2 separate regions of the Homo sapiens genome follow, and region 1 is linked to region 2. Evidence: fine-mapped expression QTL. A gene starts in region 2. The other region holds a variant in brackets. All regions are shown on one strand. Distances are between the middles of the regions. Region 1 overlaps PRR11 (proline rich 11). Region 2 holds the start of SMG8 (SMG8 nonsense mediated mRNA decay factor).

Evidence for each region. PIP is the estimated chance that this variant, and not a neighbour inherited with it, causes the effect.
Region 1: its variant is fine-mapped to the expression of SMG8 in whole blood (TOPMed, PIP 0.92).

The regions. Positions count from the first base shown.
Region 1 is chr17:59,173,459-59,185,491 of GRCh38, reverse strand. It overlaps PRR11 (proline rich 11), which reads right to left. Exons shown (of 10, transcript NM_018304.4): 3 at 288-438; 4 at 1-52. It also overlaps the pseudogene SPDYE22P. Among named protein-coding and RNA genes, the nearest start is that of PRR11, 24 kb to the right of the region's middle. RefSeq lists an enhancer at 2,613-3,114. The variant G/A (reference allele first, on the strand shown) is at 5,293.
Region 2 is chr17:59,204,901-59,214,457 of GRCh38, reverse strand. SMG8 (SMG8 nonsense mediated mRNA decay factor) reads right to left here and starts at 4,423. Exons shown (of 4, transcript NM_018149.7): 1 at 2,648-4,423; 2 at 1,972-2,117; 3 at 857-1,729. The coding sequence starts at 4,406. PRR11 (proline rich 11) reads right to left here. Exons shown (of 10, transcript NM_018304.4): 10 at 7,749-9,557. RefSeq lists an enhancer at 4,545-4,614.

The DNA.
Region 1 (12,033 bases), 30 kb after region 2:
CTCGGTGGCAGATACGAGATGGAAAGATGGTGTCTTTCAATACTTCTAAACTCTGAAATTAATAATAAACAATTCTGAGTCCTATGAGTAATATGATAAGGACAAGAAAACAGGAACCAGAAAGTGACTTGATGTATGTTTTTATAGAAGCAAAGGCAGACTTGACTCAATAATTTCATCTTATCTAAGTTTAGCTTGAGGGTTGGACTGACTTGAGCACATATGTATATAAACACCAAGTGTGTAGAAAAACTATAGCACTGAAAACAGGGATGTCACATCCATACCTGGGTTATGCAGTTCTGGCACCAGCTGTATATAGACCATACTCTATTTGTCCAAAGTTTTATTGCATCTCTGATGTTAGGAAAATTGAAGTTCCAGGATGATGTTAGCCAGCTTCTGCTTTGAGATATATCTATTGAAGAAATACCGACTCTGTAGGAAAAACAAAATGAAACAAATAAAAAACCCCTAAGTCAGAATAATAGCCTTGGCCTGGTGTGGTGGCTCATGCCTCTACTGCTAGCACTTTGGGAGGCTGAGGTGAGGAGATTGCTTGAGACCAGGAGTTCAAGACTAGCCTCGGCAACATGGCAAAACCCTGTCCCTGCCAAAAAAAAAAAAAAAAAAAAAAAAAACTTAATCAGGCATGGTGGTGTGCCAGAAGAGAGAAGAATATGCAAACCAGGTTTGAAGATGGGTTAAATCAGAGCTTTTCATTCCACAAAAGAGAACTTTTAATGGGGTCAGAACATTGATCTTCTAATATATGAAAGCCTGTTAACTAGGAGAGAGATAGCAAACTGTTTTGTCAGGACCCACCCAGCTCTGGCGGTTTAAAGCGTCATGAATGGAAATTTGAACTCCAGAAAAGCAGAGCTTCCTACCAATGGGACTTCCATAGCAATGGGATCTGCTTCCTCATTCAGTTTGGGCCTTTCCCATGAGCAAGAGACTCCTAGGAGAGCCACAGCCCATTAGGAAGCCATATGGGAACTCACTCACAGGTTCTTTGTTTATTTTTTTGAGACGGAGTTTTGCTCTTGTTGCCCAGGCTGGAGAGCAATGGTGCGATCTTGGCTCACGGCAACCTCCGCACCCCGAGTTCAAGTGATTCTCCAGTCCCCGCTCCTGAGTAGCTGGGATTACAGGCACCCGCCACCATGCCTGGCTAATTTTTTGTATTTTTAGTAGAGACGGGGTTTCACCATGTTGGCCAGGCTGGTCTCACACTCCTGACCTCAAGTGATCCACTTCCTTTGGCCTCCCAAAGTGCTGGGATTACAGGCGTGAGCCACTGAGCCCGGCCAGGAACTGACAGGTTTTTTGGATGGTCTCTGAATGTCATCCAACTCTTTTATTTTTTATCAAAAAAATTTTTTTTGACACAACGTCTTGCTGTGTTGCCTAGACTGGAGTGCGGTGGCAAGATCATAGCTCACTGCAGCTTCTAAGTCCTGGGCTCAAGCGATCTTCCTGTCGCATGAGTCTCCCAAGTAGTTGGAACAAGGTGCCAGCCACCACACCTGGCTAATTTGGTTTGGTTTTGTTTTTTTAGAGATGGGGTCATGCTATGTTGCCTACACTGGTCTTGAACTGCTGGCCTCAGGCAATCTTCCTCCCTTGGCCACCCAAAGTGCTGGGATTACAAACATGAGCCACTGTGCACAGCTGAGATTTTTCGACTTAGTCTTTTTGTACATGCGATATTTTATTCATAGAATCCATAAATGGTAGGGAAATTTCTGAGTTCAGAGCAATACATATGATACAAAACTTAATATATAGACTAGAGTTTCTTAGCCGAACTGGAGGGGCTGGCCTTAGGTAATCCATGGACTCCCTGAAACTGGGGACACCATTGGAAATATGAGTGAGCTCATGGGCAGTTTCCTATGATTTTCAGGCCTCAAAATGTCTCTTGGACTCAAAGATGCCTTACGGCAGAGGACACGTGTACCCCCAGTATAGAATCTCGGACAGTGAATGTCAGTAAACATTCGGCAGAAAAGCTCTGCCAAATTGAGTGCTCTGATGTGACTTTTTCATCAAGTCAATGTTCCTGGGATCTCTTGTATATGATAATCTCACACTTGTAAGGTTTCATAGTTTCTGCTTACCCTAGTTTTCTTTCCCACCCTCCCTCTCCCACCAGACTGGACTCTGAAATGGGCATGTACAGAGAAGAGGAGACCCCAAAATGCTTCAGGCTTTGAGTGGAGAAGACACAGCCTCTGCTGGGACAGGGAACAGATGGATGCGGAGACCCTGAAGATGCTTTTGGATGGTGGTCTGAGGTTGGGACAGTGGCAGGAGATACCATTCACCCAGGATCTCCAGGACAAGAGACCAGCCTGGCAGTTACATGTGTTTTTCTTCAAACTGGTTGCCAGGTTGGAATGACCAATGACATCAGAGATTCCAACCTTCCTGATTGGAAGGACTGGACTCCATGGGCATCTGGGAGCTCAAGTGGACAACTGCATCTTCTCAGAGCTGTTCTCCACTCCTGACTTCTCTCAGCCTCGAGAATTGATAACACACCTTCTGGGTCCTAGCAGAGTCCAGAAGAAGGCCTTGGATAGAACAGAGACTAGGTTCCGTGGGTTGGGATAGATTTTGGGAAAGATCATGACCAGCCATCAACCGCACCCCCAGGATGAGGAGCAGAGCCCCCAGCTGAGCACCTCAGGGTACCCCCTCCAGGAGGTGGTGGATGATGAAGTGTCGGGACCATCAGGTGAGGGGACTGGAGGAAGAAGAGGTGGGATAGGATTGACTAAGGTGAAGGAAGGGGGCCAGGTGCAGTGGCTCACACCTGTAACCCTAACACTTTGGGAGGCCGAGGCGGATGGATCACCTGAGGTCAGGAGTTCAAGACGAGCCTGGCCAACATGGTGAAACCCCATCTCTACTAAAAGTACAAAAATTAGCCAGGTGGTAGTGGTGCGCGCCTGTAATCCCAGCTATTTGGGAGGCTGAGACAGGAGAATCACTTGAGCCTGGGAGGAAGAGGTTGCAGTGAGCCAAGATTGTGCTACCGCACTCCAGTCTGGGTGAGAGAGTGAGACACTGTCTCAAAAAAAAAAAAAAAAAAAAGAAGGGTCAGAGGTCAGGAAGGAGAACCTGAGGAGGGTGTATGGGAAGAATGGAGAAATTCAGGCCAGGTGCAGTGGCTCACACCTGTAATCCCAGCACTTTGGGAGGCCAAGGCGGGCAGATCACTTGAGGCCAGGAGTTTGAGACCAGCCTGGTCAACATGGTGAAACCCCATCTCTACTAAAAGTACAAAATTGAGCTGGGCATTATGGCAGATACCTGTAATCCCAGCTACCTGAGAGGCTGAGGCATGAGAATAACTGGAATCCGGGAGACAGATGTTGCAGTGAACTGAGATTGCACCACTACACTCCAGCCCGGGCGACAAAGCAAGATTCTGTCTCGAAACAAAAAAAAAAAAAACCAATAACAAAAAAACAAGCAAAAAAGGAGGGACTCAGAGAGCCAGGGACCAGGGAAGGACATGAAGAAGTGTTCTGAGGACAGAGATACGGAAGAATGGGGAGGGGAAGGAGCGGCTCATGGGGTTGAGCAGAGGAGAAAGCCAGAAAGATGGCTTGGAGAAGCCAACAGTCTGCAAGGCTGGGGAGGATGGAGAGTGGTTTGGGGTTGGGGTCGGGGTCGGGGTCTAAGGTGATCAGTTGCAGAAGCATTACATGGTGGCCTGGTTTCTTTACTCAGCCCCTGGGGTAGATCCCAGCCTCCCATGTAGGTCCCTTTGCTGGAAAAGGAAGAGGGAGTGGTCGGACCAATCTGAGGAGTCATCGGAGGAGGCGCCAGAGAAGGAGCTCGCCCCTGAGCCTGAGGAGACCTGGGTGGCGGAGATGCTGTGTGGGCTCAAAATGAAGCTGAAGCTGAAGCAACGGCTAGTGTCATTCGTGCTCCCTGAGCACCATGAGGACTTCAACAGGCTGCTTGGTAGGAGGACACCCCAGAGAGCACCTCCAATCCTGTTCTTTTAAAAACGAGGAAAACTTTCAATAACCACACTTTTCCAATGGGAAAAATATGCCCCCAGTGGGTGAGCTCTCCATGCGGGAGGACTCAGAAGTGATCACTCATGAGGGACGCTTAGGAGATGATAGAGGATTAGGCTGGAGTTGATAAAGTTTGGCTCTCGGGATAAGAAAGCTTGGTTTTGGGCTGGGCGCTGTGGCTCACGTCTGTAATCCCAGCACTTTCGGAGGCCGAGGCGGGCGGATTACGAGGTCAGGAGATCGAGACCATCCTGGCTAACATGGTGAAACACAGTCTTTCTAAAAATATAAAAAATTAGCTGGGCGTGGTGGTGGGCGCCTGTAGTCCTAGCTACTTGGGAGGCTGAGGCAGCAGAATGGCGTGAACCCCGGAGGTGTTGCTTGCAGTGAGCTGAGATCGCGCCACTACACTCCAGCCTGGGTGACAGAGAGAGACTCTGTCTCAAAAAAACAAAAAAACAACAAAAAAAGAAAGTTTGGTTTCGGGACAGGTGCTGTGGCTGATGCCTGAGATCCCAGCACACTGGGAGGCTGAGGCAAGAGAATTGCTTGAACTCAGGACTTTGAGGCTGCAGTGAGCTATGACTGCACGACTGCACTCCAGCCTGCATGACAGAACAAAACCCTGTTTCAAAAGAAAACCAAAGGCCGGGCGCAGTAGCTCATGTCTGTAATCCCAGCACTTTGGGAGGCTGAGGCGGGTGGATCACCTGAGGTCAGTTGTTCGAGACCAGCCTGACCAATATAGTGAAACCTAGTCAATACTAAAAATACAAAACTTAGCCGGGTGTGGTGGCGCACGCCTGTATTCCCAGCTACTTGGGAGGCTGAGACAGGAGAATCTCTAGAACCCGGGAGGCAGAGGTTGCTTTGAGCCGAGATAGCACCACTGCACTCCAGTCTGAGAGACTGAGACCCTGTGGCAAAAAAAACAAAAAAAACAAAAAAAAAAAAACAAGGACGGGCCCAGAAGTCAGGAAGGAGCACCTGAGGAGGTGTGTGGGAAGAATGGAGGGACTGAGGCAGGGTGCAGTGGCTCACACCTGTAATCCCAGCACTTCGGGAGGCCAAGGCAGGCGGATCACTTGAGGCCAGGAGTTTGAGACCAGCCTGGCCAACATGGTGAAACCCCATCCCTACTAAAAGAACAAAAATGAGCTGGGCGTTATTACGGGCACCTGTAATCCCAGCTACTTGGGAGGCTGAGGCAGGAGAATCACTGGAACCTGGGAGACGGAGATTGCAGTGAGCC[G/A]AGATTGCACTACTACACTCCAGCCTGGGCGACAAAGCAAGACTCTGTGTCAAAAAAAAAAAAAAAAAAAAAGGAGAGACTCAGAGAACTAGGGATGAGGGAAGGAAATGAGGAAGTGTTCTGAGGACAGAGAGATGGAAGAATGGGGAGGGGAAGGAGCGGCTCATGGGGTTCAGCAAAGGAGAAAGACGGAAAGATGGCTTGGAGAAGCCAGCAGTCTGCGAGGCTGGGGAGGATGGAGAGTGGTTTGGCGTTTTGGGTCTGGCTCTAAGGAGTTCAATTGCAGAAGCATTATACAGTGGCCTGGTTTCTTTACTCAGCCCCTGGGGTAGATCCCAGCCCCCTGTGTGGGTCCCTTTGCTGGAAAAGGAAGAGGGAGTGGTCGGACGAATCTGAGGAGTCATCGGAGGAGGAGCCAGAGAAGGAGCTCGCCCCTGAGCCTGAGGAGACCTGGGTGGCGGAGACGCTGTGTGGGCTCAAGATGAAGCTGAAGCAATGGCGAGTGTCACCCGTGCTCCCTGAGCACCACGAGACTTTCAACAGGCTGCTTGGTAGGAGGACACCCCAGAGAGCACCTCCAATCCTGTTCTTTTAAAAAAGAGGAAACTTCCAATAACCACACTTTTCCAATGGGAAAAATATGCCCCCAGTGGGTGAGCTCTCCATGCGGGAGGACTCAGAAGTGATCACTCATGAGGGACACTTAGGAGATGATAGAAGATTAGGATTAGGTTGGCAATTGGGATAAGAAAGCTTGGTTTTGGGCCAAGTGCGGTGGCTCACGTCTGAGATCCCAGCATGTTGGCAGGCTGAGTTAAGAGGATTGCTTGAACTCAGGACTTTGAGGCTGCAGTGAGCTATGATGGCACCACTGCACTCCAGCCGGGGTGACAGAGCAAAACTCTGTCTCAAAAGAAAAAGCACAGTAGCTCAAACCTGTAATCCCAGCACTTTGGGAGGCCGAGGCAGGTCAGGAGTTAGAGACCAGCCTGACCAACATAGTAAAATCTGATCTCTACTAAAAATACAAAAATTAGCCAGGCGTGGTAGCACACGCCTGTAATCCCAGCTACTCAGGGGACTGAGACAGGAGAATCGCTTGAACTCGGGAGGCCGAGGTTGCAGTGAGCTGAGATCATGCCACTGCATTCCAGCCCGGCCCACAGAGCGAGACTCCATCTCAATAAATAAATAAATAAATCAATAAATCACAATAAAAAATCAAAGAAAGCGGCTTCAGCTGTGCCCTCTGAAACTTAATGTCTCTTGCTGACTTTTCTAAACCTAAGTGTCTCCATCCATAGAGGGGGATACCTAGGCCATAGTCACACCCTGATGTGACTGTCTCATGAGGAAATGATGGGAATTCCTTTATGACTCTGCAGTGGTCCCTCTGTGTCTGCTGGGAGGGCATTCTGGCTTTTTGCCAGCTCTACATCCTGTAGATTCTCACACCCAGGGCCTCCTTCAGCCTCTTCTCAGGGGAGTCTCAGAGCGGGAGCCTCTCTCCCTTGCCCAGTGAAAGTCATTCTCCTCTTTCCCATCCACCTCACCTGTGGCAGCAATCCTGAGACTTCCCCCTGGGAGACACACTTCTCCTTGCTGCCCTGCTGCTCCCACGGAAACCCTGTCCTGCTTTTCAAGCTGACATCTACTCTCTAATCACAGAGGATCCTGTCATTAAAAGCTTCCTCGCCTGGGACAAAGATTTGAGGTTGTCAGACAAGGTAAGTTTGTTCTCCACGGAACCGTGTTCCTGCTTCAGTGCACTGCCAGGGGGAGGGTGCAGCTTCTAAACCCACAGTTCCTCTCTTCTCTCCCTCCAGCACTTCCCACCAGATGCTCCCACAGTCTTCTTTTCTTTTTGTGAGACAGTCTCGCTCTGTTGCCCAGGCTGGAGGGCAGTGTCTCAACCTTGGCTCACTGCAGCTGAAGCCTCCTGGGTTCAAGGCATTCTCCTGCCTCAGCCTCCCAAGCAGCTGGGATTACAGGCATGCACCACCATGGCTGGCTAATTTTTGTGTTTTTAGTAGAGATGGGGTTTTGCCATGTTGACCTGGCTGGTCTTGAACACCTGACCTCAGGTGTTCCGCTTGCCTTGGCCTCCCAAAATGCTGGGATTACAGATGTGAGCCACTGTGCCCCTCTGGCTCCCACAGTCTTGAGTCTTGGTGCCCACCTGTTTTTTTTTTTTTTTCGAGACAGTATCTAGCTGTGTTCCACAGGATGGAGTGCAGTGGCATGATCACAGCTCACCACAGCCTCTAATTCCTGGGCTCTTGCAATCCTGCCTCAGCCTCCTGAGCAGTTGGGAGTACAGGCACATGCCATCATGCTCGAATAATTTTTATACAAACAGTCTTGCTATGTTGCCCAGGTTGTTCTAGAACTGTTGGACTCACTTGATCCTCCTGTCTCAGCCTCTCAAACTTCTGGGATCACAGGCTTGAGCTGCCACTCCCGGCTATTCTTGGTCTTTTTATTATTTGTCAGCATCTCCCTCAGGACTCTGCTGGTCTCTTGCTGAGTGAATGAGTGGCCCCTGCCTCTCCTATGGGTCATTTGGGATCTGAGCTCTGGGCCACAGTCAGGCCGCAGCCCTGAAGCTCCTAGCCCCTTTACTCTCAGTTCTTTGGGACAGTTCTCTGCCTGGCACACAAAAGACCCTCCTGATACCAGCCGACCTAGACACACTCCTTCAAAGATCTCATCAGAGCCCACCATCCTGGGAGCATCACCAACATGCCTTCCTCCAGCTTCTCGGATTTGCATCCGACCTTCAAATACCCCACCACCCCGCAATTTCCACATGAGCACAGTCACCCCAACACTCAGGTCCCTTCTCTGATGGGCAAACCCTCCCTAGACCCCCATTCCACTGTCTCCACGATCTTCCTCTCCCAAGATGTGACCTCTCCCTTTCTGTGTTCCTTTCTCTCCACCAGTATCTCCTGGCTATGGTCATAGCATATTTTAGCCGCGCCGGCCTCTTCTCCCGGCAATACCAATGCATTCATTTATTCCTGGCTCTGTGAGTGGTTTGCTTCCTCCTATCTGTCAATATCCAATACCCTGGGACAGCGGGGGAAGTGGGATTCCAGCCTTTCATTTATTCTTGCACCTATTTGTCCTCTTTACTCTGTGTACAAAAAAGAGGATTATACTATCTTGTTTTTAGACTGCTGTTTCTAAAAAGAAACTCAGGCTGGGCGCGGTGGCTCACGCCTATAATCCCAGCACTTCGGGAGGCCGAGGCAAGCAGATCACTTGAGGTCAGGAGTTTGAGACCAGCCTGACTAACATGGCAAAACCCCATCTCTACTAAAAATAGAAAAATTAGCCAGGCATGGTGGTGTGCACCTGTAATCCAAACTACTCGGGAGGCTCAGGCAAGAGAACCCGTTGAACCCAGGAGGCAGACATTGCAGTAAGCTAAGTTTGAGCCACTGCATTCCAGCCTGGGCAACAGAGCGAGACTTTTTCTCAAAAAAAAAAAAAAAAAAAAAAAAAAAAAAGCCAAAAAAACCAAATTCCAACGCCAGTGTACAAATAAAAGAATAAAACAAAAGGAACCATAAACCGCTCCTAAGGGGAGAAGAAAAGGAGCAAAGGAGCGGACACGATGCTTCCCCCAGCAAGCAGACATTTCTGGTTCTTCTGTCTCTCTCCTTCCCATATCAACTGCAAACGCCATCGACCTCCTCCGGGTTCCCATGACAGAGGCAACAGTTCAGGTCCCCCTTGCATCACTCGAATCCACTGTCAAATGCTCCCTGCTGGGGCCTCCTGGAGTCTCTCCCCAAGCCTGGGGGCTTCCTAGTGCAGCCTGAGCGTCTTTCCAAAGCACAACACCCTCACTGCCCACCTGAACAACTTCCTTAGCTGATGTCTTTCTAAATTGAGGCCAGGGTCCACAGTGCAAATTCCACCCTCTCTATAATCTCTACAACCAAACTGGCTCGCCATCTTGGTGTTTCCTGGTGTGGCTTCACCGCTCTTTCCAAATGCCCTCCACTCGACTTTGCGTTTGTGTTTTCTGTCTGGGTGTCCCGCACACATGTGGTTCTGAAGGGAAGGACCCATTCCTTAAAGTCAGTTCACCCCATAGCCTCTGTGATGCCTTCCCTCATCTTGCAACTTTTACATGCTTGTAGCTCTCCAGTTACATCCTATTATAATGTGATATTGGGATTACGTCATCTGCCCTGATTACTCCCAGTCCCATTAGACTAGATGCCTGTAGAAGGCAGGGTCTTGGCACAATATCAATGTATTCAATTTCTTTTATTTTTTTGAGACAGACTTGCCCTGTCCCCCAAGCTGGAGTGCAGTGGTGAGATCATAGCTCACTGCAGCCTCCATATCCTGTACTCCAGTGATCCTCCCACCTCAGCCTCCGGATTAGCTTTGACTACAGGGCTGTGACACCACACCTGGACAGTTATTTATTTATTTATTGAGACAGAGTCTTGTTCTGCCTCTGAGGCTGGAATGGAGTGGCCCAATCTCGGCTCACTGCAACCTCCTCCTCCTGGGTTCATGTAATTCTTGTGCCTCAGCCTCTTGCGTAGCTAGGACTAAGAGGTGTGCCACCACACCAGGCTGATTTTTGTATCTTTAGTAGATATGGGGCTGGTCTCGAACTCCTGGCCTCAAGCGACCCACCTGCTTCAGCCTCCCAAATTGCTGGGATTACAGGCATGAGCCACCACGTCTGGCGTGTCTTTTACATTTTTTATAGAGACGAGGGTCTTGCTATGTTGCCCAGGCTCATCTCAAACTCCTGGCCTCAAATGATCCTCCTGCCTCAGCCTCCCAATGTGCTGGGATTCCAGGCGTAAGCCACCACTCTCGGCCACCAGTTGGGTTTTTGTCTTCATCCTGAAGGAGTGGGAGACGCCCTTCAGCAGGTCTCTGACAATCAGGGCCCTCCTGAGGAAGGCATGGTTCTGCAGGGTGGGTGCCAGTCCTGAGCTGAGGATCGTCCCCTGCCCTCCTCTCTGGGAAGCTGACCTCAGCCAGAGGTCTCTCCTGGTGGTGTCCCTGAGCGGCAACCTGATTTCTGTCCCCAGCTACCTGGCCAATGACATGGAGGAGGACAACGAGGCCTCCAAATGAAACATTTTCTACTTCCTGTACGGGAAGAACCACTCCCAGATACCCTTGTTCCATAAACTTCGGTTCCAGTTCTTCCGTTCCATGCGCTGGAGGGCTTGGGTTTCCCTGGAGTAGTTGGAGGAGGTAGGCGGGGTGGGGGTAGGTGGAGGAGGTGGGGAGGAATCAGGTGGGCTGGAGGCTGGACAAGGGGAGGGAGGGGTATCCTGGGGAGTCCCCATCTTCTTAAGGGGCGTTTGTTTTTCCAGATCCAGGCTTATAACCCAGAGCACTGGGTGTGGGCACGAGATCGCACCGCGTTTCCTAGAGCTCCAGGGACTGTGAGGCCTGAGGTCATCAGCCTGAGGGAAGGTACATCTGTGTCCTCTGGGGTAAAGGCAGAATATTGGGGTCTATTTTGGAAATCCGAGGAACCCAATTGCTTGATCCGGCTTCGAGCCTGGGCAACATGGCGAGATCCCCTCTCCATAAAAATACAAAAATTAGCCAGGTGATGTGGGAGGATCACTGGAGCCTGGGAGGTTGGGGCTGCAGGGAGCCCTGATCCTGCCACTGCACTCCAGCCCGAGCAACAGAGTGAGACCCTGACTCAAAAATAATCATAAATACTGAGTTCGGGGAGGTTCATTATGATTGACACACTTGAGTTACCGATTTGGGTCGAGGGTTCAGTGAAGCTTTGGTTCACATCTTGTGCAGCTAACCACGTTCAGCACAGAGCATGAGACTTCATCATGAGGAGGTAGGATTATGGATTAGGCTTCTGGACTCAGGGTTTGTGATGTTGTCACATTAGAAACGGATCTAGCATGGTTACGAGTTTAGCTCTTAAGTAATGCAAAAGGCCCCAGTTGTGATGAAGTCCAAAGCCACATTCTTTGAGGGTGCCCTACTCCCTGGGCAGACCCACCCAAAGTCCTTGCTATGAAGCAGATCACTGGGGCTGACCTTGGGTATATTGAGTGAGTTTTGGAGTCAGGGTTACCAAACTGTGAGTTTCACAGCTGAACACGATGGTTCAGAAGCAGGCTATAGAATGAAGGACAGGAGATAAAATTTGATTTCTCAACTGCTCTGAACTCTAGTTAGACTTGATGTGGGACGTGAATAACCTTCCTGTCTAGAGAGCCGCCTCCTTTAAGTATGACATCCTCTCTCTCACTTCCAGAACACCGGATCCAGGGGAGATGTGAATTTTCAGCAGGAACTTTATTCCATTGCTAATGACAGACACCAGGAAGGAGGAGAGGAGCCATTTGTGCAGATCATCTAGAAGAACCTGGACTGTTCTAGACGGAGCTGAATAGAGTGATCAAGTCGTCCTCCCAGAACCAGGGGGGTACTTCTGTGTCTGGAATTGGTGGGTTCTTGGTTTCACCGACTTCAAAAATGAAGCTGCCAACCCTCGCCATGTTACAGTTCTTAAAGGTGGCGTGTCCGGAGTTTGTTCCTTCTGATGTTCAGATGTGTTCAGCCTTCTGGCGGGTTCGTGGTCTTGCTGGCTTCAGTAGTGAAGCTGCAGACCTTCGCGGTGAGTGTTACAGCTCTTAAGGCAGGGCGTCTGGAGTTATTCGTTCCTCCCGGTGGGTTCGTGGTCTCACTGGCTTCAGAAGTGAAGCTGCAGAC
Region 2 (9,557 bases):
GCCTGTGCAACAGAGCGAGACTGTCTCAAAAAAACAAACAAATAAATAAATAAAAGAATATATAAGATTAAGCAGATATGGGTACACTCCTAACTCTAATTGTATCCAATAGTATATTATTTAGTCTCAAATATTATTCTGCTTTTCCCCAGAACTTTTTTTTTTGCAGGGGGAATGGAGTCTTTCTTAGTCACCCAGGCTGGAGTGCAATGGCGCGATCTCGGCTCACTGCAACCTCCGCTTACAGGTTGATTCAAGTGATTCTCCTGCCTCAGCCTCCCAAGTAGCTGGGATTACAGGCGCCTTCCACCACGCCTGGCTAATTTTTTGTATTTTTAGTAGAGACGGGGTTTCGCCATGTTGCCCAGGCTTGTCTCGAACTCCTGACTTCAGGTGATCCGCCTGCCTTGGCCTCCCAAAGTGCTGGAAATACAGGCGTGACTCACTGTACCCGGCCTTTTCTCCAGAATTTTAACTTCAAGTTCTGCCTTTGAATGAAATGATGTGAATTGATAGCATGAACGGATTAAAATACCCACAATGTATTTTTTAAAAAACAGAATATTAGGTATGGAAGGTATTTAAATTTAAGACCTGTTTAATTAAATAATTCGTTTTTTAATTTAATTTTTTGTAGAGATACAAGTCTCACTATGTTGCTCAGGCTGGTCTTAAACTCCTGGGCTCAAGCAATCCTCCCACCTTGGCCTCCCAAAGTTCTGGGATTACAAGCATGAGCCACTGCCCTCAGCCTGAAATAATTAGTTTTGAGGCTAACTTGTACTTTTTAAAATCAATCAAAACAAACATCAGCATTTTTTACTTGTTTGGGGCTGCAGAGGGTTATATTTCTTACCTGAGGCATTAGTATTATCTGCAAAGGAGCATCAGGAACCACAACAAAAAGCCTCATAAGTTGAGCATAATGAGGTTTCAGCCCTCTACCTTGAGAGGATGACAGAATATATAAGGGCATGTCACTATTTAGGGCTTTTAAAGCTGATTCCTTTGGCCCACTTCCCATTACTTTCATTACTTTGTCAGGCCCAGAGCACATGAATCTCCGACCTCGAGAGTCTTCATATTCAAAGCCCACAAAAGCTCGAGCTATGTCATCTCGCCGTCTTCCTCTTCCCATTACAACCGCACTTCTCTTTCCAGGAATAGCTTTATTTGGAGCAGGCCAAGAGTTTGTGTCTAAGTCTCCTTCATCTTCAGCTCTAGTCCTGATGACAATGTCCCAAGGCATAAGATAATTTGTTCCTGGAATAAAGCCCTGTTGGTCCAAACCTGTATGAAAGTTATAAGACTTAGCAGGGCCTAGTTTAACCAAAGACCAGCTGGAGAATTTGGGTAGGAGACCTTTAGGGCAATTTGAATGTAGCATGCCTGGGAGATACTCAACTGTGGATGCCTGTCGATCAACGAAGTTTGGCCTCTTCTCAGTTTTCACTTCTACTTGACCATGAACTTCTGGATTATCTCCTCCTGCTTGTGGATCAGCTGGATAGGTACCTAAGCTATCTGTGGATTGGCCCAAACTCAAAGCTAAACTCAGGCTCGTGCTCTCTCCTTGGGTTTGAGGTTCTTTTTCTTTAAGTTTATCAGCATCCGAATCTGGAGGAGCAGGAGAGGATTCATTTTTAGCAGGAGCAGGATCTGGAGTACTTGGTTCAAATACTGGGAAATTGATATGATCCAATTTTCCACAACACTTTTCTTCCAGAAGCTATAGAGGGTAAGAAAAAAAATCCAGTAAGTTTTTCATTTTAAATAATATTCTTCATTCTAACAAGATCAATAATTGATGTGTAAGTAAATATGTACACATAAAGAATTTGCTCCTGTTTATATATTATACTGCAGTTGCATTTGCTTTTCTACTTACTCTGCTATTGAAAATATGTTTTTACTCAGATGATATTTAACAAAAAAAGACAGAAGAGGAAGAAGAAAAAATTCAGAGTCTACCTGATAGAAGTCATAATTGGCTGCTTTGATATCAAAGGGATCATCTCGAGGTGCTTGTTTCCTTCCACAGTTGCAAGCACCAGTAGATCGAGCTCGGCTATTGTGATATAGCACAGGCGGATTTCTATCAGCCTCTGGTTTTTCTCCTGGAAAATATAACAGCCACTATTAATTTCATAAACACAATGTGCGAATTTACTTTGCATTCTACAACATCTAACCCCACAAACAAAAACCTTACCTAAATACACATAACAGAAGAAGCAAGTGAAAGTATATAAAATACTTTATATTATAAATGTAAAGTTTAGAGTTTTTAAGTGAATTTTTCCTCCTGCTACCATTATCATGTACCATCATCTAACATAACATTCATTTTAGTTCTACAAATCCTCCAAGGCAAAGTGTTAATATGAGATGTCTGAAATTTTATACTACTTAATAATTCTCACTTACCAATTCACTAGGACGTATCCTTTAAATGAAAAAAAATAAGAAAGTAGTCATAGCTGATATTTTCCTTTTACAGCAGGAGAGAAAACGTATAGCTGATGCACCTAAATTTCTGTAGGGCTCTTTCTAAAATATCAATACATAGTGAACAGACTATCTTAAAACAAGAATGAAAACACAGCTCAAAGTTTTTATTTCAAAATGCTGAACAAATTTTAGCTACCTGATTTAGGTAATGAGTGAAATTTGTGCACACAGTGTTGATCAGTTAAACTCCTCTCCTCACAGAGCTGATGGCCATTGCTCCAAAATTTGTAGCAGTCCTCATGTAACTGCATGGCGTATTTGTGAAATGCTGGACCTCTAGCATGTTGACTGTACACTCGAAGAGCCTGGGCAAGCTGATTCTTATGGACAGTCATTGTGTAATTATGAGGCAAATTTGACTGGTAGGCACTGTGGGCCATGGGTAAAGCTTTTTGGCATCGGTTTTCTGAGAATTTTGTGTCAATATCCAAAAATCCTTCCAAGACTTTAATACTGCTTAAAATCTTAGATGTTAGCTCTCCAGTGGGTGACCCCAAGTCCTCTTCTTTCCCATCAATAGCCACCTCATACAGTTTTGAAGCTGCTGAGATCCACTTCTGATAAGTAGGAAGTTCAAAATGGGAAGGCTGTGGGTTCCTGCCCACACTGTCATCGAAACCTTTCTTGCTTAGAACTAGCTCCACATGCTGCCATAGGAATTCCCGAAGAGTGAAATCCACTAGCTGGCCTGAAGAACTGGAACTGCTGCTGTCAATGTGAAAGGAAAGTTGTTGTCGGCTGTGCTGCCTCATCACCTGGTATCGCCTAGGCCCAGAAAGGGGTGCAGGCACCAGCAAAGATTCCGGGTCCTTCACAGTACAATGACTCCTAAGTTGGTCCAGCAACATACCTACTGGGTCCTCCTCCTGGCTTCCCGGTACTATGTACACGAAAGCTTGGTTGGCAGGCACAGTAAAGAGGCAGTTGATGCTCTGATTAGTCAAGACACGACTCTTCCGGAAGATTCTATAGATCTGGTCCTCCAGGGCATGCTGCAGCCTCCTTTTGGGAGAATGTTTCTTGGGCTTGTCTGGATGAGCTGGGTCTTGGTTCCGAGGAGGTTCTACCTTGAGGGCTCCATTGAGTTGAAAGAGGAAAAGGAGTCTAGGTGGGCAAGGTCGGCAGTTTAGCTTCCAGTCTTTGCCAACTGGACAATCCTTAATGGCTGTTTTAAGGAGCGGCAGGACCTTCTGTCTCAGCCCATCCAGGGCTCTGAATACTCGATCATAAGTGATATCAAAGGAACAAGTGGGATGGACCAGAAGCAAGATATGACAGACAGAGAATAGGTAAAGGAGACTGAGGCACTGCAGCTTCTCTTGATGCTTCCAGAACTCGTGTGCTTCTGCATGAGGTAAAGAGAGTCCACCTCCAGCTTCCCCGCTCTGAAGAGCCCGACAAGCCCGGAGAAGCTGTGAATTGTCACAGATGGAGGTGAGGAGAAGATACAGAACTTTGCTTTCCTGACTGTAGTAGGCCTGCAGAAGGCTGTAGTCCTGGGAGCCTGCCTCAGTTCGGTTACCTTCCGCGACAGCTCCACTTCCCCGAACTGAACCCCCGGCTGCAGCCCCAGGGTCCTCGGCTCCACCGGCCTCACCCACGGCGCCAGCCTCAGTTCTGATTCCAGGTCCTGGATCCCCAGGATCTTGGTGGCGAAAGAGAGGAAAGACCTGTCGGTCGCACACCGTATTCACAAGAGAGAACTTCTCGGAATTCAGGCGTAGAGCCGTCTTGCCGAAGATTCCCACAACGCAGATCTCATCCTCCCGCCATGGAGGCTCCGGTCCGCCAGCCGCGCTCCCTCCGCCCTCAGTAGGGGACCCTCCGGGACTTTCAGAGCCCATCCAGGCTGATGCTCCCATTAGAAGGTCTCGCAAGCTCACGGGACCAGCCATAGTGCAGAGCGTTCTCTAGAGTCCTTCCGGTCCGTTAGTAAAACCGACCGGCTTTCGTCCAATTTTGAAATCCTTCCTCCGCTTCTTCAGTTCCTGCTTTCCCGTCACTTGAGTTCCGCCTCCTCTTCTCCTCTCCTAGTTTGTTTCCTCAACTGTAGGAATTGAGATATCAAAAACAAAAAACAAAAAAACAAAACAAAACTGGGACTACTGCGGTGGCTCACGCCTGTAATCCTAGCACTTTGGGAGGCCAAGGCGGGCGGATCACCTGAAGTCAGGAGTTCGAGACCAGGCTGGCCAACATGGTGAAACCCCATCTCTACTAAAAATACGAAAATTAGCCGGGCGTGGTGGCGGGCGCCTGTAATCCCAGCTACTCGGGAGGCTGAGGCAGGACAATCGCTTGAACCCGGGAGGCGGAAGTTGCAGTGAACCGAGATCACACCATTGCACTCCAGCCTGGGCAACAAGAGCGAAAACCGTCTAAAAAAAAAAAAAAAAAAAAAAAAAAAAGCAAAAATTAGGCGTGGTGGCGCATACCTGTAGTTCCAGCTGCTCAGGAGGCTGAGGCAGGAGAATTGCTCGAACCAGGAGGTGGAGGTTGCAGTGAGCCGAGATCACCCCGCTGCACTCCAGCCTGGGCGACAGAGTGAGACTCCGTCTCAAAAAAAAAAAAAATTGCGAAATATCTTTGTATGTAAATTATAACTTGCAGAACCTCTCTAACTAGAAGGCATATTGACAAATAGCTGCCAGGATAAAACTTACAACCAGATTTAAATGTATAATTATAACGTTTATTATTCTGGGGTTTTGTAAAAAATAAAAATCTTTGAATCTAAAAAAATTATCTATAGCACTATACAATAACATGACTGAATCTTTAAAATAAATGTTGATTGAAAGAAATCAGAAACAAAAGTGTATATACCCTATAATTCTATTTTTTTTTTTTTTTTTTTTTTTTTTTGGAGATGCAGTCTTGCTCTGTGGCCAGGCTAGAGTTCAGTGGCGCGATCTCGACTCACTGCAACCTCCGGCTCCCCGGTGCAAGTGATTCTCTTGCCTCAGCCTCCCAAGTAGCTGGGATTACAGGTGCGTGAGACCACACCCAGCTAACTTTTGTATTTTTAATAGAGACAGGATTTCACCATGTTGGCCAGGATAGTCTCAATCTCCTGATCTCATGATCTGCCCGCCTCGGCCTCCCAAAGTGGTGGGATTACAGGCGAGAGCCACTGCGCCAGGCCTGATTTTATTTCTATAGAGTTCAAAAGCAAGCAAAATAAACCATTGCATTTAGGGGTGTGTTCTTACTAAAAGCAAGGAAATATTTATTGTACCAAGTAGGTCAGTGATTACTTAGTGAGGGAAGGGATTATGATATAATATATATATTATATATATACATAATAATATATATTACACATATACATAATAATATATATTATATATATACATAATAATATATATTATATATATTTTGAGACAGAGTCTTGCTCTGTTGCCCAGAGTGGAGTACAGTGGTGCAATCTAAGCTCACTGCAAACTCCACCTCCCAGGTTCAAGTGATTCTACTGCCTCAGCCTCCCAAGGAGCTGGGATTACAGGTGCACCACCATGGGCGGCTAATTTTTGTATTTTTAGTAGAGATGGTGTTTCACCATGTTGGCCAGGCTGGTCTCGAACTCCCGACCTCACATCATCCACCCACCTCGGCCTCCCAAAGTGCTGGGATTACAGGTGTCAGCCACCACACCTCGCCTCCGGCCTAAAATTTTTTTTTTTTTTTTTTGTGAGACAGAGTCTCACTCTGTCACCCAGGCTGAAGTGCAGTGGTGCTATCTGGGATCACGGCAACCTCCATCTCCTATTCCCTGTCTCCGTCTCCTCAAGCAATTCTTCTGCCTCAGCCTCCCAAGTAGCTGGGATTACAAGCACGTACCACCACGCCCACCTAAACTTGTATTTTTAGTAGAGATGGGGTTTCCCCACGTTAGCCAGGCTGGTCTCGAACTTCCAACCCCAGGTGATCTGCCCACCCCGGCCTCCCAAAGTGCTGGGATTATAGGTTTGAGCCATCACGCTCGGCATTGATTTTTTAATTCATATATTTTCTATACTTACTATATACTTTTTTGTTTTTTTGAGACAGAGTCTCACTCTGTTGCCCAGGCTGGAGTGCAGTGGCGTGATCTCAGCTCCCTGCAAGCTCTGCCTCCCGGGTTCATGCCATTCTCCTGCCTCAGCCTCCCAAGTAGCTGGGACTACAGGCGCCTGCCACCACGCCCGGCTAATTTTTTGTATTTTTAGTAGAGACCAGGTTTCACCGTGTTAGCCAGGATGGTCTTGATCTTCTGACCTCATGATCCACCTGCCTTGGGCTCCCAAAGTGCTGGGATTACAGGCGTGAGCCACTGCGCCCGGCCAATATATACTTTTCTATAGGTATTATTATTTCTAGTTAAAAAAAAAGGTTAAAAAGGGAAAAACCAAAACTTTTATTAATCTTTATTTAAAGATGCAAGGTAGAACACATTTTAACACTGTACAATGGCAGTAGCAGCTTTGCAAATGTTTATCTATATGGACTTTTTTTTCCTGCCTGGCTTCGTTATATAGCAAAGCATTTTTCTTTTTTCTTTCTTTTTTTTTTTTTTTTTTTTTTGAGACAGCATCTTGCTCTGTCACCCAGCAGGCTGGAGTGCAGGTGGTATGAACACTGCTCGCTGGAGCCTCAACCTCCTGGACTCAAGTGATTCTCCCACCTCAGTCTCCCGAGTAGCTGGGACTACAGGCACATGCCACCATGCCCGGCTAATTTTTTGTTTTTTGTAGAGACAGGGTCTTGCAATGTTGCCCATACTGGTTTCAAACTCTTGGCCTCAAGTGATCCTCCCACCTCAGCCTCCCAAAGTGCTGGGATTACAGGTGTGAGCCACTGTGCCTGGCCCCCAAGCCTATAATTTTTTAATTTATATATTTTTCTATACTTAACATATACTTTTTTTTTTTTTGAGACAGTTTCGCTCTTGTTGCTCAAGCTGGAGTACAATGGGGCGATCTCGGCTCACTGCAACCTTTGCCTCCCAGGTTCAAGCCATTCTGGCTCAGCCTTCCCAGTAGCTGGGATTACAGGTGTCTGCCACTATGCCCGGCTAATTTTTGTATTTTTAGTAGAGACAGGGTTTCACCATGTTGGCCAGACTGGTCTCGAACTCTTGACCTCAGGTGATCTGCCTGCCTCGGCCTCCCAAAGTGCTGGGATTATAGGCATGAGCCACCGCACCCGGCCAACATTTACTTTTCTATAGGTATTATATTTCTAGTTTAAAAAGAAGGTTAGAAAGAGAAAAACCAAAACTTTTATTAATCTTTATTTTAAAACATAACCAGATGCACCTTGGTTGTTTACATTCTCTGGTTGCCATTCAGTCTCAAAGTAAACACTGGGAGCATATGATAAATCGTAGTTTAAGGAAGCCATAGCACTTACAGAGTTCTCAAATGGTTACAATATAAAATCTGTCATAAAAATCAGTAAAAGATGCAAGGTAGAACACATTTTAACACTGGTACAATGGCAGTAGCAGCTTTGCAAATGTTTGTCTATATGATTTCCACAGGACTTTTTTTTTTTGCCTGGCCTCATTATGTAGCAAAGCATTTTTTCTTTTCTTTTTGAGATGGAGTCTTGCTCTGTTACCCAGCAGGCTGGAGTGCAGTGGTATAAACACAGCTCACTGCAGCCTCAACCTCCCGGGCTCAAGTGATTCTTCCACCTCAGTCTCCTGAGTAGCTGGGACTACAGGCACACATCACCGCTCCCGGCTAATTTTTCGTTTTTTGTAGAGTTGGGGTCTTGCAGTGTTGCCCAGGCTTGTTTTGAACTCTTGGCCTCAAGCGAACCTCCTGCCTTAGCCTCCCAAAGTGCTAGGATTATAGGTGTGAGCCACTGCACTGGGCCATAAAGCATTTTTCTTTTTCTTTCTTTTTTTTTTGAGACAAGGTCTCACTCTGTTGCCCAGACTGTAGTGCAGTAGTGTGATCTCAGCTCACTGCAACCTCCACTTCCATCGTTCAAGTGATTCTCACGCCTCAGTCTTCTGAGAAGCTGAGACTATAGGCACATGCCACCACACCCAGATAATTTTTATATATTTTTTTTGGTAGAGACGGGGTTTCACCATGTTGGCCAGGCTGGTCTCAAACTCCTGACCTCAAGTGATACACCCACCTCGGCCTCCCAAAGTGCTGGGATTACAGGTGTGAGCCACTGTGCCTGGCCCCCAAGCCTATAATTTTTTAATTTATATATTTTTCTATACTTAACATATACTTTTTTTTTTTTTTTGAGACAGTTTCGCTCTTGTTGCTCAAGCTGGAGTGCAATGGGGCGATCTCGGCTCACTGCAACCTCTGCCTCCCAGGTTCAAGCCATTCTGGCTCAGCCTTCCCAGTAGCTGGGATTACAGGTGTCTGCCACTATGCCCGGCTAATTTTTGTATTTTTAGTAGAGACAGGGTTTCACCATGTTGGCCAGACTGGTCTCGAACTCTTGACCTCAGGTGATCTGCCTGCCTCGGCCTCCCAAAGTGCTGGGATTATAGGCATGAGCCACCGCACCCGGCCAACATTTACTTTTCTATAGGTATTATATTTCTAGTTTAAAAAGAAGGTTAGAAAGAGAAAAACCAAAACTTTTATTAATCTTTATTTTAAAACATAACCAGATGCACCTTGGTTGTTTACATTCTCTGGTTGCCATTCAGTCTCAAAGTAAACACCGGGAGCATATGATAAATCGTAGTTTAAGGAAGCCATAGCACTTACAGAGTTCTCGAATGGTTACAATATAAAATCTGTCATAAAAATCAGTAAAAGATGCAAGGTAGAACACAGTTTAACACTGGTACAATGGCAGTAGCAGCTTTGCAAATGTTTGTCTATATGATTTCCACAGGACTTTTTTTTTTTTGCCTGGCCTCATTATGTAGCAAAGCATTTTTTCTTTTCTTTTTGAGATGGAGTCTTGCTCTGTTACCCAGCAGGCTGGAGTGCAGTGGTATAAACACAGCTCACTGCAGCCTCAACCTCCCAGGCTCAAGTGATTCTCCCACCTCAGTCTCCTGAGTAGCTGGGACTACAGGC